Homo sapiens: one gene and its partners. The protein of the gene in region 5 purifies or fractionates together with the protein of the main gene of each other region. This does not show direct contact. Each region holds a gene or a part of one and is shown on either strand. Other genes may lie near its edges. The genes, in order: NMD3, ELF2, NMT2, PLS1, PRPS1, SMIM26 and ACSS2.

Evidence for each region.
Region 1: the proteins of PRPS1 (region 5) and NMD3 fractionate together in Homo sapiens (co-fractionation; one large-scale study listed by BioGRID). This does not show direct contact.
Region 2: the proteins of PRPS1 (region 5) and ELF2 purify together in Homo sapiens (affinity purification with mass spectrometry; 3 studies listed by BioGRID and IntAct, with this or other methods). This does not show direct contact.
Region 3: the proteins of PRPS1 (region 5) and NMT2 purify together in Homo sapiens (affinity purification with mass spectrometry; 4 studies listed by BioGRID and IntAct, with this or other methods). This does not show direct contact.
Region 4: the proteins of PRPS1 (region 5) and PLS1 purify together in Homo sapiens (affinity purification with mass spectrometry; 3 studies listed by BioGRID and IntAct, with this or other methods). This does not show direct contact.
Region 6: the proteins of PRPS1 (region 5) and SMIM26 purify together in Homo sapiens (co-immunoprecipitation; one large-scale study listed by IntAct). This does not show direct contact.
Region 7: the proteins of PRPS1 (region 5) and ACSS2 fractionate together in Homo sapiens (co-fractionation; one large-scale study listed by BioGRID). This does not show direct contact.

The regions. Positions count from the first base shown.
Region 1 is NC_000003.12:161,230,739-161,234,810, reverse strand, and holds part of NMD3 (60S ribosomal export protein NMD3), read right to left. Parts: intron 1,413-4,072; coding exon 1,332-1,412; intron 85-1,331; coding exon 1-84. UniProt on the Homo sapiens protein: Acts as an adapter for the XPO1/CRM1-mediated export of the 60S ribosomal subunit.
Region 2 is NC_000004.12:139,124,763-139,128,834, forward strand, and holds part of ELF2 (ETS-related transcription factor Elf-2), read right to left. Parts: intron 568-4,072; coding exon 402-567; intron 1-401. UniProt on the Homo sapiens protein: Isoform 1 transcriptionally activates the LYN and BLK promoters and acts synergistically with RUNX1 to transactivate the BLK promoter. Isoform 2 may function in repression of RUNX1-mediated transactivation.
Region 3 is NC_000010.11:15,130,490-15,134,561, forward strand, and holds part of NMT2 (glycylpeptide N-tetradecanoyltransferase 2), read right to left. Parts: intron 2,875-4,072; coding exon 2,756-2,874; intron 2,656-2,755; coding exon 2,564-2,655; intron 2,445-2,563; coding exon 2,328-2,444; intron 1-2,327.
Region 4 is NC_000003.12:142,711,105-142,714,448, reverse strand, and holds the end of PLS1 (plastin-1), read right to left. Parts: intron 2,949-3,344; coding exon 2,824-2,948; intron 2,578-2,823; coding exon 2,442-2,577; 3' UTR 785-2,441; downstream 1-784. UniProt on the Homo sapiens protein: Actin-bundling protein. In the inner ear, it is required for stereocilia formation. Mediates liquid packing of actin filaments that is necessary for stereocilia to grow to their proper dimensions.
Region 5 is NC_000023.11:107,634,575-107,638,646, reverse strand, and holds part of PRPS1 (ribose-phosphate pyrophosphokinase 1), read right to left. Parts: intron 1-4,072. UniProt on the Homo sapiens protein: Catalyzes the synthesis of phosphoribosylpyrophosphate (PRPP) that is essential for nucleotide synthesis.
Region 6 is NC_000020.11:18,565,781-18,570,292, forward strand, and holds SMIM26 (small integral membrane protein 26), read left to right. Parts: upstream 1-1,651; 5' UTR 1,652-1,698; coding exon 1,699-1,816; intron 1,817-3,455; coding exon 3,456-3,625; 3' UTR 3,626-3,780; downstream 3,781-4,512. UniProt on the Homo sapiens protein: May play a role in cell viability.
Region 7 is NC_000020.11:34,910,738-34,914,809, reverse strand, and holds part of ACSS2 (acetyl-coenzyme A synthetase, cytoplasmic), read right to left. Parts: intron 1,715-4,072; coding exon 1,623-1,714; intron 1,418-1,622; coding exon 1,314-1,417; intron 1,058-1,313; coding exon 985-1,057; intron 715-984; coding exon 639-714; intron 488-638; coding exon 373-487; intron 1-372. UniProt on the Homo sapiens protein: Catalyzes the synthesis of acetyl-CoA from short-chain fatty acids. Acetate is the preferred substrate. Can also utilize propionate with a much lower affinity.

The DNA of each region.
Region 1 (4,072 bases), on a different chromosome or scaffold from region 5:
TACTCTATGGCAATCTCCACACATTTGGGACTGAACAACATAATCCACCACAAACACTTGTTGAAGGATAGCACCATTCATCACCTGATAAAACAATTACACTCCTTCATTCTTTTGGTTTTGTTTAATAACAAATATTTTCTTTAAAGAAGAACCTTTAATATTTAATTTAAAACTTTTTCCATTAATGCTTTGAGGACATCAATCAAATGTCCTCAAATTTAAAGTCATAAAAACAAGTTATACTATTTCAAGAACGGTATACAGATTTAATTCCTAAGATTTATTAGATTAGCATTTCAAATTTTCCTTTAGCTGAAGTGGTTGTGAGAATATTCTGTGTATATTTTACATATATATATATATATATAATTTTTTTTGAGACAGGGTCTCACTCTGCCTGTTGCCCAGCCTGGAGTACAGTGGCACGATCTTGGTTCACTGCAACTTCTGCCTCCTGGGCTCAAGTGATTCTCCACCTCAGCCTCCCAAGTAGCACACACCACCACGTCCAGCTAACTTTTGTATTTTTAGTAGAGATGGGGTCTCGAACTCCAGGGCTCAAGTGATCTGCCTACCTTGGCCTCCCAAAGTGCTGGGATCACAGGTGTGAGCCACCATGCCCAGCCTATACATGTTTACATAGAAAAATCATCCTTAGAAGAAAAAAATAAGGAAAACTTCTCAAAAAAAAAATTCCTTAATTTAATGATTCCCAAACATAACTGATCAGAAATCACATGGGAAGCTTTTTAAATACAGATTGAACATTCCAAATCCAAAAACCCAGAATCTGAAATTTCAGCTTCAAAATCTGAAACTTCTTGAGTTTCTAAATGACACTCAAAGAAAATGTTCACTGGAACATTTTGTATTTGAATTAGGGATGTTCAACCAGTTAAGTATAATGCAAAATTCCAAAATCCAAAAAATCCAAAATCTGAAACACTTCTTGTCCCAAGCATTTCAGATAAGGGATACTCAACCTACTTATAGATTCCCGGCCTCACATACAGAGAATTTTTGCTTCAGTTATGATGAGTCATTACAATGATCAGCCAAGTTTGAGGATCAGTACCTTAGACCATGTTTTTACTTCAATCCTTTCCTAATAAAAATAACTCTGGAAAAGTAAGTCTGCTAATCAGAAGCAATGACTACTCTTACTAGTGATCTAATTATTTGTACAGATGCTCAAAAGAAAACAAACAGCTAAAATTGAGTGTACTCTTTTTCTTTTAAGCTGTTCAAGCCATAAAATAACTTATCACTGGGTCTTCATTTTCACTACCTGCACTTTAACCATGCTGAGAAAATTATGTACTGCTTACCTCTTTCTGAATAGTCAGTTTAACTTTAAGTCTCTTAGAATGAGGCTCAGTCCAAACAAAGCCTGCATCTACAAGCCGTACCTTCAATAAAACACAAACAAAAAGAAACGTAAGTTCTCACCTAGGAGGAAAAAAAACACGAAAGAACAAATCATCAATAAGCAGATTTCATAAGATGCTTAAGGAATCTGTGATCAGCATACTACACACCATCATCACAAAAAAAGATTAATCATTGGTTACGTAACAACAGCAGCAAATCAAAGGACAACCCAATGACTATATTAATGCAACTGATATAATTTAAGCAAAAATTAAAGTATTTGCATAGGAAAAAAATTCTTTTCCCTTAAAAAAAAAAAAAAAGTACATTGTCCTTTAAAAGGAAATTATATTTTTTGGAGGAAAGCAAAGACCTTGTGACCTCATTATTTATTAGTAACCTCATGAACAAAAGTTTCCACTTGGATTATTCTCTCTATATTCTGTGACTTTTTTTAAGAAGTGACATTGATTAGAGAAGTTGCATGCACTGAATACTAAATCCACAACTATAACTCACTACTAAATCTGCAGCATCTGCATAGGCCAAAACAGTTTGCTATATGTGAAGATCTGAATATAACTCAAGAATGGCCAGAATGGGTGTTTGGGGAGAAGGGGTGGGTGGGAGAACAAGAATGGAGGCTGCTGTAATAACCTGGGCCAGATTGTAGATGATCTGAACTGAGAGGCACTGGAAATAACAAAAGCAGATGCAAGGGCTAGTTAGGAGATAAAAATCTGTAAGATTTATCTGCACAGTCCAAGTGATGCAGAAAAAAAATCTGTAAGATTTAATGGTAACTGGATATGGAAAAGAGGAAGAGAACAGACTCCAGAATGATGCTCAAGTATTTGCTTAGACAACTAGGCAGTACACTTTTTGTGACTACCTATACCGAAATAAACAATGGATATAATGAGAAAAAGATGTTACATTTGATTTCAGACATTTCAGTTTAAGACAGTATCTGTGAGATACCCAAGAGGACTTTTCAGTGAACAGTAAGATACAATTGGTCTGGAGATCTATAAAAAAATTTGGGCTGCAGTTAACAGATTTGAGAGGTATCAGCAGCAGATTATACTTTTATCAAGCACTGTCTGGTAAAAAGTAGACTGGCCACTTTTAGTGTAGATGCAAAGATTCAACACACCAGAGTAAAACCCTCCTCATATAGCTGGCCTCCCTAAAACAAAGCCTAGTAGTTAACAAGTGATGCCAGGTACACAGGGTGATAGGCAGATTCCTATTCCTTCAATCTCCATCAGCAGTGGTTAAAAAAAAAAAAAAAAAAAAAGCCCCAAAGGCACTGAATAAGACTGATCTTCCCCTCAAGCTCCAACCTCCACCTGCAGGAATGGAGAGTCTCCTTGACATCCTGCTCGGCATTCCCCAACACAACCACTGCACTATGTGTCCTCAGACAACCATGACTAATCAACTTTATTAGTCCCTTTCTTTCTTTACCATAGTCCCAGACACCTCAGTCACCCCTATTTCCCATACTCCAATTTCCATATGGTTATGCATATTCCCTATTCTGTCCCCATCTAACACTCCTCCCCGAATCCTAAAACCCTTCTACTGTGCCCTCCGGAGCTCAACATTCATTAACAATGAAATCTCCTAAATCCTCAACTTTGCTGAACATTCCCTTCACCTTCTAGATCTCCTGATTTCTCTCTCCCCTGCAGCTATATAAAGTGATAACTGATTCTTCCTATCACTGGACCAGGCACCAGACAGCTATCGTCCTTGCTCTTCATTGCTAATTACAGACCATTCTCCTTGTCTCCTCCTCAAATATACCCAGCTCTAAGTCTAAAGTCATTAGACTCTACCACCCGCAACTCTCTTTTTTATAGTAATCTATTCATCTTTGTATCACTTGTTTTCATTTCTCAAAAGATTTTAGCTTCTGGCTCACCATCACACTTTCCAACAATATTAATACCTAGCGATTTCAATATCCACACAGGTGATCCCCACAATACCCTGACCTCTCACTCCATTCTTTGAGTTCTTCTTCTCCCAAAATATTATCCACCTTCCTATCTCAGTCACTCATATGCCTCTATTACCAGTAACTGCAAACCCTCCAAACTATCAATTCCAAACATCCTACTCCCTGACTACCACCTCCCATCTTTCCAGCTTATTTCCTCTAGTTCCTGGGCACCAAATATCTTTCAAGCTAATATAATGGACAATCCATTCATCCTACCAACTTTATTCCTCATTCCTCCTCACTAGCTTCAAAATCAATAATCAAAATTATTCTCATGTACACACTCAATTTCCTTGTTCCCTCTCTTATTTCACCTTAGCCACTAGGCTAAATTATAAATTTGGTTAAATCCAGTGCTCTGCCTGCTCTATGCCTTGACTATGTGGCTGACAGAACTACAGAAATAGATGCACACCACAGTGACTAGTCTAAACTTGTAACAGTAACCCTCAGCACTGCCCAGCACCCATCCAACACTGTCCTGGTGCATTTCCTCTAGTTCTAGAGGACTATTTCATATCTTCCGCTCTCTCCTCAAACATCTATCTAACAGCTCTTCCCACATAGCTACTGCCCACGCTTCTGTTTTCTCCAGTACAAAAGAAGGAACCAGAGGAGAATTCCCAGAAGCTCCCACTCAACACCTTCCCTGCTGTTACCACAGATGAATTATCCATACTCCCATCA
Region 2 (4,072 bases), on a different chromosome or scaffold from region 5:
CAATATTAACTCAAAGAAACTCATAATCAATTAGACAATGATAGAATACCATTTTTTTTAATTTAAAAAGCTGTCCTCATAATACTAGCCTATTGACTTGTATAAATAACAGCTAGGATTTATACTCTCAGAAAAAAAATAATAAAATAACTTTATCATTATGTGAAGCTGTAATTTTGTGCATAGAGTCCATGATATGAGACTGTTACACCTCATAGAATTATACAATAGAAGTTTTATATCTACACAAATTCCCTTAAACATAGATGTTTCACTGGTTTCCAAGCTATACTAAATAGCATTAAAAAGGTTTTTCAGTATATTTTTCATCTGGCAATAGTATTGTTGAAGCTTACAAAATGAGAAAGTTATAAATAATGAACATTTTATGAGATGTCTACCTGTTTCCACATTCTCGGTCTCAACTTCTTGTTCTTCTGCCACATCTTGCATCATATAAGTCTCATCATCATAAACCAGAACCTGGGCTGCATAGCCCTGCTCTAATCTGGCACTTGGAACTGGCTCCACAATCACTGCTGGATATTCAGAAACCTTTTCACTTTCCTATAAGAGCAAATTTAAAGAACAATCAACCTTTGTATTTACAAATTCTGAATTCACTTATAAATCCTTGAACTAATACAGTCTCGAGCAGTCCACATAATGAGTTTCAAATATTATAAATATGAATGTAAAAGCCAAAACAAGAGATGAAAAGGGCTAACTTTAATAATCCTTTCAAGTCTCAAGAGGTAAGACATAGATTAAACATTTTAAATAATCTGTGCTTTAGGATTAAGTTGGCAGATTAAAAACATGCATATAATTTCACTTAATTATGAAAGCTGACTAAAACAACAGTAAAAGACTCTTTTATACCTAAACCCACAAGGACAAGAGGTGAGAGCAACAAACAAGAAGAGGTAAGAACAACAAAATCCTGGAAGACTGAAAGTGTCTGGATGAGTATGGAGTGGGTTAGCAGACCCAGCAAAGCCAAATCAGTCTGGCAGCAAAAAAAAAAAAAAAAAAAAAATCTGAGAAACAACACACTGTACAGTGTAGAGAATCTACAGAAAGCAACACCAATTACATGCACTTTTGATTCCTAGACCTTCTCTCTCCTTCATGATGCTAAGCAACCAGACCTCCTCCACCTCAGCAGAAGACAGGTTACTTTCCAGAGAGGAACAACAATAGCATCTTTGAGGCATAATAGGCACAGTTGTTAGCATCATACTCTACCCAAAATGGAGTGTCCAACTAGCTTTTTAGTCCATCACTTTTAGTCATGAACAAAAAGCCAAATATTCATATTCCACACACAGAGAAGATATTATAAAGTAAGAACAGATCACAATTCAGTAAAGAACATTTTAAAATACAAGTAAAAGAATTTTTGGAAATTAAAGATACAATAGCTGAAATGAATACAGGCTTGGAAGATAAAATTGAGGCAATCTCCAGGAACCAGAGGAAAAAAGATAAAGCAATAGAAAACAGGAGAGAAAAGATGGCAATATTAGATGACCAACCAGTCCAGGAGGTCCACTATCTGAATAACAGAGTTCCAAAAAAATAAATCATAAGGAAAAAACAAGAAATAGAAAGGAAAAAAAAAAAAGGTTTGGAAAGAAATCAACAAGAAAGAAGTAAATCAATAAAATTTTCTAAGACTGAAGGATATAAGCCACCCATTTGAAAGGACCCACCAAGTGTCTAGTACAAAAAATTAAGGAACACATACATTGAGGCATATCACTGTGAAATATCATAATATTGGGAACAGAAAAGATTCTACAAGCTTCTAGAAAGAAAACACAGGTTACTACAAAGAATCAGGACACAGACTTCAGTCTTCTCAACAGTCATACTAGAAGGAAGATGACAGTTGAGCAATTTCTTCAAAATTATGAAGAAAAATTACTTCCAATCTAGGATTCTTCACCCAGTCAAATCATCTTATAGAAGTAGAATAAAGGTATCTTCTCAGACATGAAAGATCTCAAACATTTACCTTTCATGTTTCCTTTCTCAAGAAGATACTGGAGAATGTATCCCATCAATAAGAGAGAGTGAATTTTTTAAAAAAGAGAACTATTGCAAATACAGGATAGAAGAGATCAACATAGGAGAGAAACAATGGGAATCTTCAGGAAGACTGTGAAGAGAGATTCCACGATGCTAGCTATGCACCAGATTTAAAGGGCAACCAGTCCAAAATATAGCAGTGTGACTCCTGAGATAGCATGATGAACTGTCATTACTACGATAACCATTGACCTTGTTCCTAAGGACAGAATGTCCAGATCAGTCTGTTCTAGATTTTTATTGACATTTGGCTTACCTTCATGTACCTACTCACTCCACCTGCCCTGCTGCCTGGATCAGCTAAGAACACATTTCACCCCCCAGATGTGTTCTGCTTTGATCTACTATGTGTTGGAGGAAGATTACCATGGGCTTAAAATAAAAGATACAGAACAGCGTTCTTCATGTGACCATATACCTCCTGAACAAATATGCAATACCCAGCCCATACCATACTGTAGCACTGCCAGATACCAGAGCAGGATGTGCCTTACATTTCTAAAAACTCATGGCATTGCTCACTGACTACTTGAAGACAAGCTCATGACACTCAGTGAACCTGACTATTCAGCTATCTTCTCCTGGAAGCCTTCATCTATCTATGATAATATTGCCCTTTCCTAACTCAATTAGCTTGGTAAACTATTTTTTCAAAATAAAATATTGTTTAGGACTATTTTCATAGGTGGCAAAACTATAAAGAAAAGTAAAGAAATTATAATACATAAGTCAAAACAATAGCACCTCTGGAAACAGCGCCCAGCCGGGTTTTAATATTTCAGTGATTCCTTCTCTTTGACCATAAAAAAGCTAAAATCATTTTGCATTAAAAAATTCAGGGTTCATGCCTGTAATCCCAGCACTTTTGGAGGCTGAGGTGGGCAGATCACCTGAGGTCAGGTGTTCGAGACCAACCTGGCCAATACAGTAAAACCCCATCCCTACTAAAAATACGAAAATTAGCCAGGCATGGTTGCATGCGCCTGTAATCCCAGCTACTTGGGAGGCTGAGGCATGAGAATTGCTTGAACCCGGGAGGCAAAGGTTGCAGTGAGACAGGATCACACCACTGCATTCCAGCCTGGCTGACAGAATGAGACTCGGTCTCAAAAAAAAAAAAAAAAAAATTCAGACCAGGTTCAGCGGCTCACACCTGTAATCCCAAAACTTTGGGAGGCCAAGGCAGGAGGACTGCTTGAGCCCAGGAGTTCAAGACCAGCCTGGGCAACATAGGGAGACCCTATCTCTAGAAAAAATAAAAAATAAATATCAGCCGGGCGTTGTGGCTCTTGCCTATAGTCCTAGCTACTTGGGAGGCTGAGGCAAGAGGATTGCTTGAACCCAGTAGGTGAAGGCTGCAGTGAGCCATAATCATGCCTTTGCACTCCAGCCTGGCAACTGAGAACAAGTCTCAAAAATTAAAAAAAAAAAGAAAAATATTAAACTCTCATTTCTTTTAACTGAACTTTTAACTGATCTTTAACTGAAGTTAAAAGGCAACAAGTCCAATTAAAGAAGTTCTTTAACTGAACTTTAACTGATCGATCGAGACGTATACTTGTATACATTTCTCAAAAAAATAGTCTAACTCCTTGACTTATCTATATATTCCTTGTAATCTATGTTCCACCACCTCACTGAAGCTATTCTCTAAAAATATTTTTTTGCTTTTTTTTTTTTTTTGAGACAGGGTCTAGCTCTGTCGCCCAGGTTGGAGTGCAGTGGCACAATCATGGCTCACCGCAACCTCTGCCTCCCAGGCTCAAACCATCCTCCCACCTCAGCCTCCTGAGTAGCTGGGACTACAGGCATGTGCCACCACTCCCAGCTAATTTGTGTATTTTTGGTAGAGACAGGGTTTCACCATGTTGCCCAGGCTGGTCTTGAACTCCTGGACTCGAGCAATCCACTTGCCTCAGCCTCCCAAAGTGCTGGCATTACAAGCATGGGCCACCATACCCAGCCTCAAAATGTTAAT
Region 3 (4,072 bases), on a different chromosome or scaffold from region 5:
TGAGACCAGGAGTTCCAGACCAGCCTGGGCAACACTGAGACTCTCATCTCTACAAAAAACAAACACCAGCCAGTCATGTTGCCGCATGCATGTGGTCCCAGCTACTTGGGAGGCTGAGGTGGAAGGATCACTTGAGCCTGAGAGGCAGAGGGTGCAGTGAGCCATGATTGCATCACTGCCCTCCAGCCTGGACAACAGAGCAAGGCCCTGTCTCAAAAAAAAAAAAAAAAAAAAAAAAGAAAAGAAAGAAAAAGAAAAAAAAGAACATAAAGGCCATTCTATTTTCTTCTTTCTTTCTTTTTTTTTTTTTTTTTTTTTGAGACAGATTGTCGCACTGTCACCCAGGCTGGAGTGCAATGGCGCAATCTTGGCTCACTGTAACCTCTTACTCCTGGGTTCAAACGATTCTCCTGCGTCAGCCTCCTAAGTAGCTGGAATTACAGGTGCACGCCACCATGCCCAGCTCATTTTTGTATTTTTAGTAAAGACAGGGTTTCACCATGTTGGCTACGCTGGTCTCGCATTCCTGACCTCATGATCTACCTGCCTCGATCTCCCAAAGTGCTGGGATTATAGGCGTGAACCACCCACCGCACCTGGCCTGAAAGCCATTCTTTAACACAATATTTAACAAAAATATTCTATCACTTAGACATTTCACAAATTCAGACGGAAACACTATTCCCCATATCTCCCTGCCAAAATGATTGTAAAACGCACGGAGGCTCCAACCCTCTTGTTCTAAATACATTTTGGGACTTTGGTCCATTATACGTTTTCAGTTTAGAAAATGGATCAGCTATGGCTCTTTACGTTTCTTTCCTTTTTTTTTTTTTTCCTTTTTTGAGATGAGGTCTCGCTATGTTGACCAGGCTGGTCTCGACCTCCTGGCCTCAAGCAATCCTCCCATCTCAGCCTCCCAGTGCTAGGATTACAAGCATGAATCACTACGACCTGCCCGTCTTTAAGTTTCTAGATCTGTTTTTCCTAAATTATGGTAATAACTGAGTCATCCTGGTGCAGAATCTGATAAGATGTTGCTTTGGAGTGTGATACAAACCCCTGGGACCCCTGAGAGGGGCTTTGAGCAGACCAGAGCTGGTGCGCTCTGAACTACAGTAAACCTCCTAGATCTTCAAATCCTGTTCCTGGTTCTGTTTCCAGGTACACACTTCATTTGGCACAAAATATTCCTTGAGATCAAATGCTTTTCACAGTAAATAAGCTAACCTAATACACTGACAAGTAAAGAGACCAATTATATATGACATCTTTGACTTTCATAGCTGGATCTTTGACTTTCCGGGCTGGAGATCCAAACTAAAAGTGCAATGTATCCTATGGAGAGAAAGCTTTATCTCTCCTAAAAAATTTTTAAGTAATTTTTTTTTTTTGAGATGAAGTCTTGCTCTGTCACCCATGCTGGAGTGCAGTGGTATAATCTTGGCTCACTGCAATCTCTTCCTCCTGGGTTCAAGTGATTCTCGTGCCTCAGCCTCCCAAATAGCTAGGATTACAGGCACGTGCCACTATGCTGGCTAATTTTTGTATTTTTAGTAGAGATGGGGTTTCGCCATGTTGGCCAGGCTGGTCTCGAACTCCTGACCTCAAGTGATCTGCCAGCCTCGGCCCCGACCAAAGTCCTGGAATTACAGGTGTGAGCCACTGTGCCTGGCCAAGGCTTCGTTTTTTCTGATACATATATGTGTGAGCATGTATGAGATTGAGAGGCAGAGAGAGAAAAAGAGAAAAAGAAACCATTGTCCTTTATTTTTATTCACAGTCCGTTTTTTTTTCTTTACTACTTAATAAATTTATATTTTAAAACAGTTTTAGGTTCACAGCAAAACCAATCAGAGAGTTTCCATAAAGCCTCTGCCTCCACACATACACAACCTCCCTGATCACCGGACAGCTTGCATTCAGTCATTTTTATTTTTATTTTTATTTTTTTTGAGATGGAGTTTCGCTCATGTTGCCCAGGATGGAGTGCAGTGGCGCAATCTCGGCTCACTGCAACCTCCGCCTCCTGGGTTCAAGCAATTCTCCTGCCTCAGCCTCCTGAGTAGGTGGGATTACAGGTGCCTACCACCACGCCCAACTAATTTTGTATTTTTAGTAGAGATGGGGTTTCACCCATGTTGACCAGGCTGGTCTTAAACTCCTGAGCTCAGGTGATCTATCTGCCTCAGCCTCCCAAAGTGCTGGGATTAGAGGTGTGAGCCACTGCGCTTGGCCTGCATTCAGTAACTTTTAAAGGCCTAATCTAATTGTAATTCTTAGAAAATAAACATATAAAAACCGCATGGACGAGCTTAAACATGTACCTGTCATAAATCCGAATGTTTGCTGGGATGGCACTTATGAACCCGACCAGTTTTTTATTTGAAGACACTCTGACCCCACAGTGCCACTGCAGGAGCCAGCCTGGTGGACGCAGAGCCCTGAGGTCACGGTAGACAAGAAAACAGGCACCAGTTATTGTCCAAGAACACAGGAACAGACGCAGGAGTCCCCAAGTCAGCAGCGCCTATCCACGACATCTGTGATCGATGAGACTTACCACAACAGGAACTCGGGTGAATAGTCAAATCGGAACATATTGTCATCATCTTCTACGTAATTCTCATTTAACAACGTGTATAACTCCTTGAGCTATAAGATAAAACAAGTGTCCTATCCATGGTGCTCAGAATCAACTTAGAAGCAATGTGTGAATGCAGGAGTTGAATTTAAGAGGTTTTTACTCACTCACCACTTCGGCATCACTCAAGTCTAAAGTGTCCCACATAAAACCCTGTGGCAAAGAATACGGTTCTTGGCGTACGTTGTCTTTATCTGGTTCAATTGCACCATGAGATGTTATGACTTCATCTGAACAGGGAGAGAAAGAGAAAAAAGAAAGGCAAAAAGCGAGAATATTAAATGACAAAGTATTCTAACCATCCAAAGTGGTCAGTGACATAAGCAAAATCTGACTTAGGGCCCTCGGGTTTCAGATAATCTTTAAAAAGATGCTGTTATATCAAGCGCCTCTGGACTGAAACAGGAAAGCTAGGCAGTGGTGTGAAATCATTGCTGTTTCACCAATTATTTTTCTTTTCTTTTTTCTTTTGAGACGGGGTCTCACTCTGTCGCCAAGGCTGGAGTGCAGTGGTGCAATCATGGCTCACTGAAGCCTTCAACTCCTGGGCTCAAGCGATCCTCTCTCCTCAGCCTCCCAGGTAGCTGGGACTAGAGTTGTACAACACAGTGCCCGGCTAATTGTAAATTTTTTTTGTAGAGACGGAGTCTCATTATGTTGCCCAAGCTGATCTCAAACTCCTGGGTTCAAGTGATCCTCCCACCTCAGCCTCCCAAAGTGCTGGGATTGTAGGTGTGAGCCACCACAGCTGGCCTATTTTGCCAATTAAATGAAAGGAGAAATCCTTTGTCATCCAGTGACAAAGATGACATTACAAAACAACAGTGATTCCGAGTCTCAAGGCCTACAATGCAGCCTTATCTTACACACTGTCATAAGCAATGTAGGTTTCATTCAACAGCCTTGGGAGGTGTGTTCTTTTTACTGCATTTCCACAAACTGGGAGAGGAAAGGGCTGCGGTGACCTCTGCCCCTCCCAGCAAAACCTAAAAATAATTTCAAGGCTGGTTACTTCTCCCCATCTAAACTGCTAGCAGCGTAGTTCAGGCCATCACAATTTCTAGTGATTTCCACCAAGAAGAGTTTTCCAAGTCCTTCTCTGCAGAGCTTCCCAACATGGTAGGACTAAAACCCAGGCTCTTCCCCATGGCTGCTGCCTGCCTCGGCCCCTCTCCACACCCTCCCTGCCCCCTGCTCCCAGTGCTCTGGCCATGATGACCGGGGCAGGCCTCAGCTCAGGGCCTTCCTGGTGCCTTCCTTAGGCTTGAGGCCCTCTGGTCCTCAAGGGACGGGCCCCTTGGAATTCCCGACAGAAGCTTACGCATCACACGTCACTTTCTCCCAGCATCTGTTGCTTAACTAAAGCCTTTCTCTACCTCAGTGTGGCCGCTCCTCCCCAGCCTGGCCACCTTTTGTCCTACTTTTCCA
Region 4 (3,344 bases), on a different chromosome or scaffold from region 5:
GTAGCATCCAAGATTCAGAAGCAGCATATTACTTCAAGCAGCTTACCCAAACCACATATACAAAAGAGCAGTCATGACTCCAGTCAGAGAAGAAAAAAAAAAATCCAGATTTAGATCTAGTCCTACAATACCCTAGACTCCATCTCCATCTCCAGACTCTGCCTCTCCCTCAGTACTCTCAGGTCATGTTCACCTGTTTGTCTTCTAGGATGCCTACAGGACTGCCTGCTTCAGGTTCTTTACATTTGTTCTCTCTGCTGAACACTTATAGCACAAATATCCTTAGAGAGACCTTCCCTGACCACCCAAATACAAATAATCTCCACTCCATTTCCCAAGTCAGTCTCTATCACATTACCTTATGTTATTTCTTCTACTGCATTATCACTGTCTAAAATTCCTATTTACGAATTGTCTCTCTACTAGGATATCATACATGGATGTGATACATGAGGTCAGGAGACTTCATCTGTATTTTTTTCAGATGAATCCCCAGTGTCTAGCATAGTATCTGGATCATAATAAATGATAAATTTGTGAATGGATTGATTCACCTGAATTATTTCAGCACAAACTAAATTGTAGTAATCACACAGTTGGTTTTTAATAATTCTTCATATTTAAGAACAAAAGAACTACCCTCATCTTCAAAGAAATCAGACACAATTTTTTTTTTGTTTTACTAACTCATTTAGGAATTCTTTTCTTTTCTGGAAAATAAGCTTATGCTAGACTAATTTTCAAGGCTGAATATTTTTCTTCAAATGAAATAAATATAAACACATTTCTATATACACAGCATTTTTATTAAATATACTCTGTGAGAAAAAGAACACCCTAAAGTGCCAGATTTCATGTAAATCCAATAACTTAGTAAATACAATGGTGAAAAAAAATCAGAGGGAAACATAATTTAAATAATCTTATAAAAGAGCAAGAACATATCTTAATCTTAAGAAAACAATCATCAAAATATAAAAGGGAAAGAAATCTCTTTTGTAGAAGAATATATTTCAAATTCCACCTGTTGATCATTTCATTTAAAAAATTCTATTCTAAACACATGGGCAGTCTCTCTTACCAATATATATATTTAAATCAATGGTAGAAAGGGAATTTAGACTACTCATTCACACTGAGATAAAGTGACATTTTTGTTGCACAACAGTATTGCTCACTGGCACTAACAGTGGAAGATGGAGAAAGTAGATTTCTGGATTCAATTGTTAGCAGCAGAAATGGACTAATGCTAAAAATTTAGAAAAAAATAGTCCAAGCTGTAGCGATTTCCAAGTAATACAAACATTAACCAAACATTGCCAATTTGTAACGGGCTGTGAAAAACATATGAAAATACTCTACATTGAATACTAGCTTTATGTTACTTTCTATTAAAGATATTCAGTGGGCATATTCTAAATTATATAGGGCTTCTATAGAGACCTAAACTAGCAAGTATAATATGAAGCTAACAGGACAGTGTCAGCATATCTTGGGATGTTCTAGCCAATGTTTGGCTACAAGTATTTGGAAGGGGTCAAATAACTATATGCACATTCAAAATGAATACTTATAAAAAGAAATCTTAATGTATCAGATATCCACAGACTGAAAAGTGTTACACATGTTGTGGGGGGAAAATACTGATGGTTGGCTGAATGACCAATTAAACATACCACTTATGAAAAGCTGGGTGATTCAGGTGCAAAAAAATATATATGCACACATATCTCTCTAATAACATCCTACCAACATATATATGTTGCATGACATAGTTAAAGCTGTGTTACCAAACTAGGATGTGTAAAGTATCAATGTAGTTAAAATTAAATTTTAAGTAAAAAGCTGCTGCTACTTAAACAAGAGAGTGAACTTTGGGGTTTATTCAAGAATTAGTTCTCATATATAAAAAAGTTTGATATTAATAAACAATTCTGGTCACCATAAGGTTTTAGACAGTATAGAAACTTACAGAAAAGTGTTTTTGGACCACTTTAAATAGTTGGAGGAAGCAAATAAAAGGATTAAACTGGATTATGAGTATGAATGCATTTATGATCAAAATTAACACACCAAAAAAATCAAACCACATTTCACAGCAGAACCTGCAAAAACGTTTGTATTCATCTTTTTTGAACCATAAAAAAGAATGATTTAGTCTTGTCTAATACGACTTTTAAGCAACAAAAATAATTTAATCATGAAGTATCAGCTTGATTATGAATATATTCTATTATCTGTATCAGTTGGTAAATTAACTGTGTTACCCAAAAAGGCTGACCAGCTCTAACTAGTATGAACAGGATATTGAATTCATTAATGAATATATAACTATTTTGAGCATACAAATAATCTCTGGTTTTACACCCACTACATTTCAGAATCCTGTAAACTGTGAGGCATACAATATGTTTAATGTGGCAGAAAATCATATGAAATGATTATTTTATTCTGTTCAGTCCTTTTCCCATTAAGCATGCAAACACCGTCATAACCATCTTTGGTTTCACTTCTACGAGGTCATCAGGTAATGCATATATCCGGGCACCGATCTTTCGAGCAACTGAAATGGCGTATCTTGAAGAGACAAGAAAAATATCTTGGTGTTATCCACTGTGTTTTCACTTAACATATTTTAACAAAAGAGTGAAATATTTTGACAAGATTAGTTTTACGAAAAGGTTAAGTTTGTGAGTCTTAAATCTAAGACTCACATATAAGTTATATTTAAAAATATGAATTTTAAGGGCATAGTAACTTTTCCTATAAGGATTTTAGAGAATTAAAGGGCCATGTATTGTAATATAAACCATAAAGGCTTACTTAGCATTGTTCAGCTTGTCCTCATCAGATAAGTTTTCTCTCCTGATCATTTCTTGACGAACTGCATTTGGTGCAATGGCATCTATTAAATCTAGGACAGGTAAACTTGTGCTTATAGATTTATCCTAGAAAATAAAGCATAGATGAACATTCATAAACATCTGACCTTTAATTTTCATTATTTTCAGACTCTTCTGATCATATAACTGAAGGCAATCTACAAATTCTTTGTACTTAACCTAACGTTCAGCTTTTCTGCAACCAGCACACATAAATAAACCCTTTAAAATATACTTTTCCTTGAATCTTTATATATAATATAGAGTTGTCACCATATCTGAATAAGGTTTGTGGACATGATAGCTCCTAAGTATGCTAACTATAGTGTCCATTCTGTAAAAAATACAAAACTTTTGAAAGGGAATAGATGAATTTTTAATTAACAATTTTATAAATTCTACTCACATATTTCTTAGACCATGAATCCAAAAGCCTTCCCTTAATATTTTTCAGAAAGAAAA
Region 5 (4,072 bases):
GAGTTCAAAACCAGCCTGGGTAATACAGTGAGACCCCATCTCTACAAAAAATAAATAAATAACAATAAAGTATAAGGGAACATGTGCATAGATTATTTCATATGGCCGGGCGTGATGGCTCACGCCTATAATCCCAGCACTTTGGGAGGCTGAGGTGGGCGGATCACCTGAGGTCAGGAGTTCAAGACCAGCCTAGTCAACATGGTGAAACCCGTTTCTACTAAAAATAAAAAAATTAGTCAGGGTGTGGTGGCTCACACCTGTAATCCCAGCACTTTAGGAGGCCAAGATGGGTGGATCACCTGAGGTCAGGAGTTTAAGACCAGCCTGGCCAACACAGTGAAAACCCATCTCTACTAAAGTATAAAAATCAGCCGTGCATGGTGGCACACGCCTGTAGTCCCAGCTACTCGGGAGGTTGAGGCAGGAGAATCACTTGAACCCGGGAGGCACAGGTTGCGGTGAGCCAAGATCACGCTACTGCGCTCCAGCCTGGGCAACAGAGTGAGACTCCGTCTCAAATAAAAATAAAAAAAAAAAATTAGCTGAGTGTGGTGGCAGGTACCTGTAGTCCCAGCTACTCAGGAGGCTGAGGCAGAAAAATTGCTTGAACCGGGAGGCAGAGATTACAGTGAGCAGAGATCGTGCCTCTGCACTCTAGCCTGGGTGACAGAGCAAGACTCCATATCAAAAAAATATATATATATATATATATATTTATATTACACTATTTCATATCTGCAGATTTGGTCTTGGGACCAATCCCCTGTGGATACTGAGGGATGACTTTACTATACTTCTATAGACAATAAGGTCTAAGAACAGCTTCCCTACTAGTATGCTGTGAATGGTTACAGCTACATGTGGATATTGATCACCTAGGCTTCAGGAGATCCTCTGAAGGAGCCTTATACCAGAAGCAGTTCACTGCCTCAGTTTACTCCAGTGCACTATACAAATATTACCATTTTCTATGGTAATATTTTCTAATATTACCATGTGACAGACACGAAAAAGATGCATGAAATGGTTGGCACATGTTAGTCTAAAGTACTTACAAATAACCGGACCATAATTTTAGCAGGTGGCCTGTATCTCATTTCATATAGGTACATGTGATGTACATAAAATTTGATGCATCACCTATTACTGTTACAGAGTCCATAAATAGCAAAAGAAGTAGAAATATCATAAGGAGTGAATCACTACTGTTCTATAATGACACTTTAACAAAAGACAGTACCACCTCTACCATACTGGCAATTTACCCAGTAAATATTAAATGTTCATATGCTCATCACTGTACTAGATGCTAGGGAAACAATGGTGAATAAAATGTGGTCCTTGCCCTCATTCTGTGTTAACTGTACTCTGGTCCAATTACTAAGTAACTCCATAGGAATTTACTCTAAGTATGAAGTAGGGCTATATTTTACCACGAAAGTTTCAGTGCCCATACTCGGGTCTCTACCAAGAAAAAAAAATCACCTCTCCTGTTCACCAGGTTTAAGAAAAAAAAAAGAAAATAATTTAAAAATTTTTAAAAATCACCTTAGTGATACCTCAAACAACATTATATTCCAACTAATCCTCTAGGTGAAGGAGAGGTGTATGTGTGTATATAGACAAGTAGATCAGAATGGCTGACAATACCTATTGAACAAGAGAAAACTTCAGTTCAAATCAAAAGGCAATAGAGTTATTAAATAAAAGATCCATACTTCTATCTCACTCTAAGCACTATCTTCTGTGTGGCTTCAGGAACTACCTACTGTCCTATTTCTGTCAAGATCACTTTTACCCACCCTTCTCTCCCCAAACAAAACTTCAAGGAGAACTCCAAAAGGGACTTATATGAAAACTGGCAGAGGCAATTCTATTGCCAGAAGAAGCTGACATAGGAGATAATTACTTATTTATTCCTTTCTAACCCAAGATGAAAGGGAGCTGGGAGTGGTGGCACACACCTGTAATCCCAGCTACTCAGGAGGCTGAAGCAGGAGGACTGCTTGAGCCCAGGAGTTCAAGTCTAGCCTGGACAACACAGGAAGACCCTCATCTCAAAAGCAAGAAAAGACAAATGGGGTTAGTTTATGTTGTAAAGCAAGAAAAATAAAAGCAAGTGAAAAAAAATCAAACTAGAAACCAATTAAAATCAAGGAAGCTGAGATTCCTGGCAGCCAGAACAAAAAAGAAAATGCACTAGTTTAGGATAAACCTTTTTTAAGACTGGACGCAGTGGCTCATGCCTGTAATCCCAGCACTTTGGGAGGCCAAGGCAGGCAGACTGCCTGAGCTCCCCATTTCAAGACCAACCTTGGCAACATGGCGAAACCCCGTCTCTACCAAAAAACACAAAAATTAGGCGTGGGGACATGCATCTGTAGTCCCAGCTACTCAGGGGGCTGAGGCAGGAGAATCGCTTGAACCTGGGAGGCGGAGGTTGCAGTATGGGGAGATGAAGCCGCTGCACTCCAGCCTGGGTGACAGAGCGGGACTCCGTCTCAAACCAAACAAAACAAAACAAACAGGCAGTGGTCATTTCAAGGGACTTTTGGGACGTTTTCAGTTTTTTTTTTTTTTTTTTTTTGAGACAGTCTCGCTCTGTCGCCAGGCTGGAGTGCAGTGGCACGATCTTGGCTCACTGCGACCTCCACCTCCCGGGTTCAAGTGATTCTCCTGCCTCAGCCTCCCGAGTAGCTGGAACTACAGCCGCACGCCACCACGCCCAGCTAATTTTTTGTATTTTTAGTAGAGATGGGGTTTCACCATGTTGGCCAGGATGGTCTCGATCTCTTGACCTCGTGATCTGCCCGCCTTGACCTCCCAAAGTGCTGGGATTACAGGTGTGAGCCACCATGTCTGGCCCAGATCTTTCTTTACTACTAGCTCTGCCCTTCGAGAGATTTCAAGCTAAAAGAGTCACTTTTAGGTTTTATGTTAAACAAGTCTGTGGTTGGGAGGCAGAGGCAGGAGGACCGCTTGAGCCCAAGAGTTTGAGACCAGCCTGGGTAACATAAAGAGACCTCCTCTCTACAAAACAATTTAAAAATTAGGCATGGTGGCAAGTGCCTGTGATTGCAGCTACTGGGGAGACTGAGGTGGGAGGATTGCTTCAGCCCAGGAGTTAGGAGCCATGATCATGCCACTGCACTCCAGCCTGGGTGACAGAGTGAGACACTGTCTCAAAAAAAAAAAAAATCAGAAAATTTTAATGCTGCTCACATTCATCCTCCATATATCAGCTCCTTGACCAAAATATGCATTTCCCTGGAGGAGAATGAAAGTCAGGCAGGCATATTGATTTCCAATCATGTATCAGAAGCCTATGGCTCTTGTTTCAGTCAAGAACACAGAGTATCATCTGTGCTCCAGACATTCACTTGCCAGAGTCAGGATGTTTGATTAAAAGTTGGAGAACAAATGAACAAATGTAGTTTGACAATTGATATCAGACAGTATAAGGGACAAGCTATTCTGCTATGTTTTTAAAACTTTATCATTATCGCTGGGCACGGTGGCTCACGCCTGTAATCCCAGCACTTTGGGAGGCCGAGGCGGGCGGATCACGAGGTCAGGTGATCGAGACCATCCTGGCTAACACGGTGAAACCCCGTCTCTACTAAAAAATACAAAAAAATTAGCCAGGTGTGGTGGCGGGCGCCTGTAGTCCCAGCTACTCGGGAGGCTGAGGCAGGGGAATGGCGTGAACCTGGGAGGCAGAGCTTGCAGTGAACCGAGATCAAGTCATTGCACTCCAGCCTGGGAGACAGAGCGAGAGAGCGAGACTCTGTCTCAAAAAAAAAAAAAACAAAAAACTTTATCATTATCAAGTAAGACCAGAAAACAACATTCTTAGACCACAGTGGCTTATCTCCCTTTACAAATGCCTCAACTATCAGTCAATATAAAAAATACCCACAAAATTGTTATATTGTCCATGATGTTACTCGATATCACTATTTAGAGGTCTCACCCATAAAATTCTTAGGATTTTTTGCCTGGAAGTTTCTAAATAACTTTATGAAAATAAAAACCACATAATCGATTGCATATGCCTTTATCCCTCTGG
Region 6 (4,512 bases), on a different chromosome or scaffold from region 5:
AAACTATGAACATTCATGTACATGGCTGTGTGCAGACACAGGTTTTCATTTCTCATGGATAACTAGAAACGGAATGCCTGGGTTATATGGTAGGCATATGTTCAACTTTTTAAAAACTAAGTTTTGCAAAGAGATTGTAACATTTTATGTTCCCATCAATAACAGTTCCAATTATTCCAAATCCTTACAGCTCTTGGCATTCTCAATCTGATTTTAGCCATTCTAGTAGGTGTGTAATGGTCTCTTATTGTATTCTTTTAATGTCCATTTCTGTGATGACTAATGATGCTACTGTGCTTATTGGTCATTTGTATATCTTCTTTCGTTCTATTCAAATTTATTGCCTGGTTTTTAGTTGGGCTGTATTTTTATAACTGAGTTGTAAAGCGTCCTCATATATTCTGGATCCAAGTCCTTTTGTTAGATATATGTTATTATGAATATTTTATTCTGTGGCTTGGCTTTTCATTTTCTCAACTGTGACCTTCAAAGAGCAAAAATTTTAATTTTTTTTTAAAAGCCCTATTTATCCATTTTCGCTTTATGCATATATATATAAAATGAGATGGGGTCTCACTATGTTGGCCTTGCTGGTCTGGAACTCTTGGGTTCAAGCAATCCTCCCTGCTCTACCTCCCAAAGTGCTGGGGTTACAGGCATGAGCCACCCCGCTTGGGATGCCTTTTTTATTCTAAGAATTCTGTGCTTATTCCAAGATGGCAAACATATTCTCCTGGTTTTTTTCTAGGCTTATATTAAATAGTTTTAGCTTTTACATTTAAGTCAGCGATCCATTCAGAGTTAAGTTTTTTATCTATTTCTGTAGGGCAGAACATCAGTTTTTAAAGGGTGGGCAAGGTGAAAAGAACCCTGAAGGATACCAGGGAAAATGATGTTTCTGAAGCCATGAAAGGTGCAGGTGGGGTCAGTGGTGGCAAATGCTTTCGAAACCAAGTTTGAGTGTGGCTGAAAAGTACTTAACGTTAATTTACCGGGCCTACCTTGTGCCAAGCACATCACACTTGCTCTTAAGTTGTTCAGTCTATTGAGGGCATCTTGCTTTAAAAAATGTATGCATAAGACAAAAGCTGGAGGTGGTCGGAGTCGAAGGAGATTTTTTGTTTTTGAGACATGGGCACGTTTGTATGAAGGATAAACGTCAATAATGAAGATGGGGGAGGACTTAGGGTGTCAATGAGGGGAAAGGCCACTGAGGCTGGAAAAAATAGTACCCAGAGCCTAGTGGAGGGATTAGCTTTGGCCTGGAAGTATTTAAAGTTCACCCAGAGTTCCGGAAAGAAAAATGGAGGAAAAGAAGAGTTGCGGGGAGAGACAAGCGGTATCCCTGCAAATCTGAAAACTGGAAGAGGAATTGGAAGTAACCTTTTCGGATACCGTCTGGAGCCCACGAAGGCATTACAATTTTGCAAGTGAGAAGCTTCTCCTCTAAGTTGTCATTTAGTCCTCGTCACGTGGTAAAAAGTATCGCACGCCCACAGTTCTACACCCGAAAGTCCGGACACCTGAGCGACTTTCCGGGCCAGAGGCCCCAAGGTGCATCGGGGCAGAGCCGGAAGCGGACGCTGAAAACTGGCGGCTCCTTAATGGTTCCGGCGGCAGGGACCGCAGCGACGCCCTCACCGGAAGTCCCGCCTCTGCCGTGGGCCTGCGAGAATCGAGGCACTCGCTGGCGTACCCATGTATCGAAATGAGTTCACGGCCTGGTACCGGCGGATGTCGGTGGTCTACGGGATCGGCACCTGGTCTGTGTTGGGCTCACTGCTTTACTATAGCCGGACAATGGCGAAGTCGTCAGGTAGGGCTCTTCGGCGGGGCCTGCCCCGGAACACACGGCCTTCGATGAGAGTTCCCCGGGGGTCATGGAAACAACTTCCCTGTCCTTTAAATCCCAGGTTTATTCTGCAAAACTAATTGAAACGGGTGCTAACAGCCGTTTGTTATAATGGAATCTGCAAAGAACTAGACTCCAGGAATTATTAATACCTTGTAAATATTGTTTCCTAAATCTGAATCATTTACTGGATAGGGCCGTCCCCATATTCAGAATTGGAGGAATCTGTGTAAAGTGCAAGGTGGACTTTCAGAGACTCTGGCCGGTGATTTTTAAAGAGTGATGCTTCAGTACTACTGTCCCTCATCGTATATGGCGAGCAATTTCAGTACTTTTAGCAGCCAAGGCGTATTAAAATCTTCCAGTTACTAAGCGCAAAGGGAGAAAAGTCTCTCAGCTTTGAAAAATATGCTGGAAATCTGTAGAGACATTAAGTTGATTAGTGTGGTTGCTAGGGGCTGAGGGGTTGGGGAGTTGGGGAATGACTGCCAAAGGTATGGATTCCTTTTGTGGATGAAAGTATTTTTAAATTGATTGTGGTGCTGGTTGCACAAATCTGAATATACTAAAAACATTAAATTGTATATTTTAAGTGGGTTAATCGTATATGTTAATTATATCTCAGTAAAGTTGTTGTGTAAAAACTATGCTGAAGATTACATTTGGTGATGAAGCTGTCAGTGGCCTGAAAGTACATGTGTCCAGCATTAAGCATTTAAAAACATTTTGGCCGGGTGCAGTGGCTCACGCCTGTAATCCCATAACTTTGGGAGGCCGAGGTGGGAGATTGCTTGAGCCCAGGGGTTCGGGACCAGCCTGGGCAACATGGGGAGACCCCCATCTCTACCAAAAGAAAAAGAAATTTTTATATATAATATTTTATATTTACTTTATATGTAATATATGGTAAAAATACTTTACATTTATATATAAAGTAAAAATATTTTAATGTCCATATTTATGTTTTCTTTCTTTCGTTCTTTTTTTTTTTCTTTTTGACAAGGTCTCACCCTGTCGCCCAGGCTTGAGTGCAGTGGCATGATCTCGGCTCACCACAACCTGCGTCTCCGGGCTCAAGTGATTCTCCTGCCTCAGCCTCCCGAGTAGCTGGGATTGCAGGCGCAGGCCACTGCTGCCCGGCGAATTGTTTTATTTTTTTTTTGAGACAGAGTCTAGCTCTGTCGCCCAGGCTGGAGTGCACTGGCGCTATCTTGGCTCACTGTAACCTCCATCTCCCAACTCAAGCAGTCCTCCTGCCTCATCCTCCCCAGTAGCTGGGGTTATAGGCCCATGCCACCACGCCCAGCTAATTTTTGTATTTTTAGTAGAGATGGGGTTTCACTACGTTGGCGAGGCTGGTCTCAAACACCTGACCTCAGGTGGTCCACCTGCCTCGGCCCCCACAAAGTGAGATTGGGATTACAGGCGTGAGCCACCGCACCCAGCTTTTCTTTTCCCTTCCTTTTCATTCCTTCCTTCATTATTGGGGTTGGAGAGAGTGGATGTAATTCTTACCTTAGTTAATTTCTAAGACTTTAATGACTGCTTTCTAAGTTAATAATTCAGGTGTTCTTTTTTTTTTTTTCTCTTAATGGTGATAAAGTAGACCAAAAGGATGGCTCAGCAAGTGAAGTACCCAGTGAACTCTCTGAACGCCCAAAAGGATTTTATGTGGAAACAGTTGTCACATATAAAGAAGATTTTGTTCCAAATACAGAAAAGATCCTCAACTATTGGAAATCATGGACTGGTGGCCCTGGTACAGAACCATGACTGGCTGCTGAATTCTGAAAACCAGGACTTGGTTCAACATTTAAATTTGATAGTTGCCCTGATTCCCATTTTGGGTTTGTGAAAAGTGTATGTATTTAAATTTGCTGTAAAACATAATCACTAATAATATGCAATAAATATTTTCTTGAAGGAAACTATCTGCGTTTTCTTTTTTTTTTTTTTTTTTGAGACGGAGTCTTGCTGTGTCACCCAGGCTGGAGTGCAGTGGCTCGATCTCGGCTCACTGCAAGCTCCGCCTCCCAGGTTCATGCCATTCTCCTGCCTCAGCCTCCCGAGTAGCTGGGACTAAAGGCGCCTGCCACCATGTCTGGCTAATTTTTTGTGTTTTCAGTGGAGACAGGGTTTCACCGTGTTAGCCAGGATGGTCTCCATCTCCTGACCTTGTGATCCGCCTGCCTCAGCCTCCCAAAGTGCTGGGATTACAGGTGTGAGCCACGGTCCCCGGCCTACTATCTGCATTTTCAAGAGGTGTTCCTCTGTATTTGCATGAGTGAAAGATTGCTGTGAAATTTCACATAGAGCTTCCATAAGCTTGATTTCCTGAAACTAGTTAATGTAGATTTATATTTCTTTCATGTTGCTATTAGGCACAGCTTTAGTGGTCGCTTTAAGGTTAGTTTCAGCAAATCTCCATATTCACTTTGGGATTCACAGTAGCCCTTTGGGTACTACTGCGTACTGGGTAAGTATGATATAAATTTGATTGTAACTTCTGAATTAAACAGACTGGACCTATTCTTTAGGACCAGTGCACATACCCCTCATTCCTTCAGCAAGTGTGGATTACCCACCAACTGTGGCCAGTGCTATTCTAATGCTGGGAATGCAGTCAGGACGACATGATTGATGCTGAACCAGTTTCCTCA
Region 7 (4,072 bases), on a different chromosome or scaffold from region 5:
GCCACAAAGATAGCCCACCCCACATCACAGCCTAGTAATGGAGATGACTATATATTGTCACTCAAGTTAGACATTTCTAACACAAGCCTAGGCCCTGAGGATCCCCTGTGCCCACAAGGATACCCCAACCAGCATAGGAGTCTCCCTTACAATCGCTTGTGCTATGTTCTCAAGGTACAAGGGCCTCTCTACCCACAGTCAAGGTCAAAGTCTTCCAGTTCCCACCTAGCCCTGCTAGAGGAGGCATTCCTAGAATTGCTCCTGGATCCTCAGTATACTGATGAGCAGGCAAAGAAGGACATCAAGAATTTTCTAGGCAGGAAAAGTGAAGGAATTTGAGCCTGGAGAAAGGCATAGCAGTGCCAGACTCACCTGCACATCTGGGCATGACCTCTTAATTGGGGGGGACTGGCTGGTGGAGTCACCCATGCCGAGCTCTGCCCGCCCCAGGTGCTTGACCACAATGCAGCATCTTACTGGGAAACCCCTGGAGAAGAGAAAAGCCTAAAGTGGTAGCCTTGTTGGCTCAAAGGGAACTTGGCAAGACCCACCCATGTCCATTTAGGGTAGAGGGGACAAAGGGAACCTGGCACTGGGGAAAGGCTCAGTCAACTCAGACAGTAGCCAAACACACTTACTTCTCCTGACACTTCTGCAGGGCCTCGTCAGCCAGCTCCTTCAGGTTCACAAGCTTTTCCCCCCTGTAGAAGGCATCTTTGGGGAGCAACAGACATTCCAGGCCTTAGTAAGCCCCATGCTGCCTAGTGGGCACAATGTCCATAGGGCCCTTCCTGAGTAGGCCTCTTAACTCTGGCTCTTCCAGCTGATTCGAGCTGACAGAGGGTCAGCTGAGGTGGGACCAGGAGAGAAAAGGCAGGCAGTCTCTACCCTCTATGCTGAGTAGCCCCAAATACCAATGAGCTGATTGGAGACCAAGGCTTGAGGTATGGGGGGTTCTGGAGAAGAGGTGAGAGAATTAGTCACCTGTAGTGATGAGAAGACTGCAGCTGGAATCCAAGATCCGTTCACATAGAGACTCTGAAGAGAAGCCTGCAAACTAGGGAAGGGAAGAAAGTCTGAGGGAGAGAAGAAAGCCCCAGGGATTGAGTGAATGAAGAAAGGGGTTGCTCATGGAACTTTCAGGATCTCTAAGCCAGGGTCCTAGAAGAAACTGAATAACTAATATGGACCTATGACACAAACCTTCTAAGCTCCTTAGTTTGTTATTTAAGACCCTCCATCATCTAGGCCCAACCTACTTCTCCAGAGCCCCACCCCCCCGCCTGCCCCTTTTCACCAGCCCAAACTCCTACCACAATGGAGTGCAAAGCCCCAATGCGGGCACATGCCAGCATGGCCACCACAAGCTCTGGGATCATAGGCATGTAGATGGCCACTCGGTCCCCCTTCTGAATGCCTGCAGGTAAAAGCACAGAATATGAACCATGAACCCTTCTTGCTGCTACTTGCTCCCTCCCATCCAGCTGGCCTCCCTCCCAGCTGACCTGTTCTCTTCCTCTGTTACCAAATTCTTTCCATCCCTTGCCCTCTCCCCATAAGTCTCAGATACTCAGATACCCCAAGGCCAGACCCCCAGTCCTTTCCCACACCCCCACACTCACCCTGTTTTCGGAGAACATTGCTGAACTGACACACTTGGACCAGAAGCTGATGGTATGTGATCTGAGTGGTCTCCCCTGGCTCATTGCCCTCCCTGAGACATACCAGAAAGAACCAGTGATTAGGGGTATAACTTCTTCCCCAAACAAGAAACAGGCAGAGTCATAAAATCCATTCAGTGACACTAAGGCCTGGAACTGTTCTATGAGGATGAGCTATCTGCCCACCATCAATCTTGCCATCACCAATCTTGAGCTGACGGGTCAGATACTTTGGCCATTCAAGATATTTTATACACATGTTGTATGTCATTAGAAAATGCACTGTCCATCTCTGATCCTTGATGAAATGGAGTGACGGCCCCTTCTCTTCCATCCTAGTAATGTATTAAGGAGAAGTGAAATCACAGATGTGATTCCTTCTGATGAGGCATCAAGACTGCATTATTCAGAGTAGGGTCTCCAGATCACTTGTGCCTAAATCATCTAGAGGATTTGTAGATTCCTGGGCCCCAGCTCAAACATACTGAATTAGAATCACAGGGTCCAAGGATCTGCTTCTTTATTACAAGATGGTACAAGGAATTAGTAGGGGATTCTTGAGAATTGGCCAGGCGCGGTGGCTCACGCCTGTAATCCCAGCACTTTGGAAGGCCAAGGTGGACAGATCAAAGGTCAGGAGTTTGAGACCAGCCTGGCCAACATGGTGAAACCGCGTCTCTACTAAAAATACAAAAATTAGCTGGGTGTGGTGGTGTGTGCCTGTAATCCCAGCTACTGGGGAGGCTGAGGCACGAGAATCCCTTGAACCCAGGAGGCAGAGGTTGCAGTGAGCTGAGATCACACTACTGCACTCCAGTCTGGATGACAGAGTGAGTTTCCATCTTGAATAAATAAATAAAGTTTGAGAATCGCCATCCTTTATCAGGTGATTTCTGTCTACCTCCTCAGCCTTGCCTCCCACTCCTTCCTAGGCTTTAGCCTGGTTTACTTCAGTCATTCCTTCATGCATTCATTTGCTTATTCAACAACTACTATGTGCTATCTACATGTATAGAAATAAGGCACCAATGGGCGGGGCGTGGTGGCTCTTTCCTGTAATCCCAACACACTAGGAGACTGAGGCAGGTAGATGACCTGAAGTCAGGAGTTTGAGACCAGCCTGGCCAATGTGGTGAAACCATGCCTCTACTAAAAATACAAAAATTAGCTGGGTGTGGTGGCACACGCCTGTAATCCCAGCTACTTGGGAGGCTGAGGCAGGAGAATAGCTTGAAGGGAGGTGGAGGTTGTGGTGAGCCAAGATCACGCCACTGCACTCCAGCCTGGGCGACAGAGTAAGACTCCGTCTCAAACAAACAAAAAAAAGAAGAAATAAGGCACCAATGAACAACATAAGTAAGATACCTGATATCATGGAGCTTATATTCCAATGATAGTGTGGGTAATAAACAAATAACAAATATAACCAGGATAATTTCAGATTATGATAAGCATTATAAATAGAGCAGAATGATATAAAAATGAGTGACTAGGGAGAAATACTTTTAAAAAATATACTATCTTGGGTCAGGCACGGTGGCTCACACCTGTAATTCTAACACTTTAGGAGGCCAAAGTGGGCCCATCTATTGAGGCCAAGAGTTCAAGACCAGCCTGGCAACATAGCAAGACCGCATCTCTAAAAACATTGAGCTGGATCCGGCTGGGCACGGTGGCTCATACCTGTAATCCCAGCACTTTGGGAGGCCGAGGCAGGTGGATCACGTGAGGTCAGGAGCTCAAGACCAGCCTGACCAACATGGAGAAACCCCGTCTCTACTAAAAATACAAAAATCAGCTGGGTGTGGTAGTGCATGCTTGTAATGCCAGCTACTCGGGAGGCTGAGGCAGGAGAATCACTTGAATCTGGGAGGCGGAAGTTGCAGTGGGCCAAGATTGTGCCACTGTACTCCAGCCTGGGCAACAAGAATGAAACTCTGTCTCAAAAAAAAAAAAAAAAAATTTTAGCTGAGTGTGGTGTCATGCACCTATAGTCCCAGCCACTCAGAAAGATGAGATGGGAAGATCTCTTGGCTCATGCCTGTAATCCCAACACTTTGGGAGGCCAAGGCAGGAGGATCACCTGAGACCAGGAGTTCAAGACCAATCTGAGCAACACAGCAAAACCTCATTGCTAAAAAAAAAAAAATCGTTTTCAATTAGCTGAGCATGGTGGTGCACACCTGTAGTCTCAGCTACTCAGGAGGTTGAGGCAGGAAGATCGCTTGTACCCTGGAGGTCAAGCCTGCAGTGAGCTGTAATCATGTCACTGAACTCCAGCCTGGACAACAGAGTGAGTCCCTGTCTCAAAAAATAAATAAATAAATGTTTCCCTTAGTGGTTTTTTTCCAATTTTATGATTTTTTTGAATAAGTAATACATACAAGTGGGACTACATAAAAAGATACATA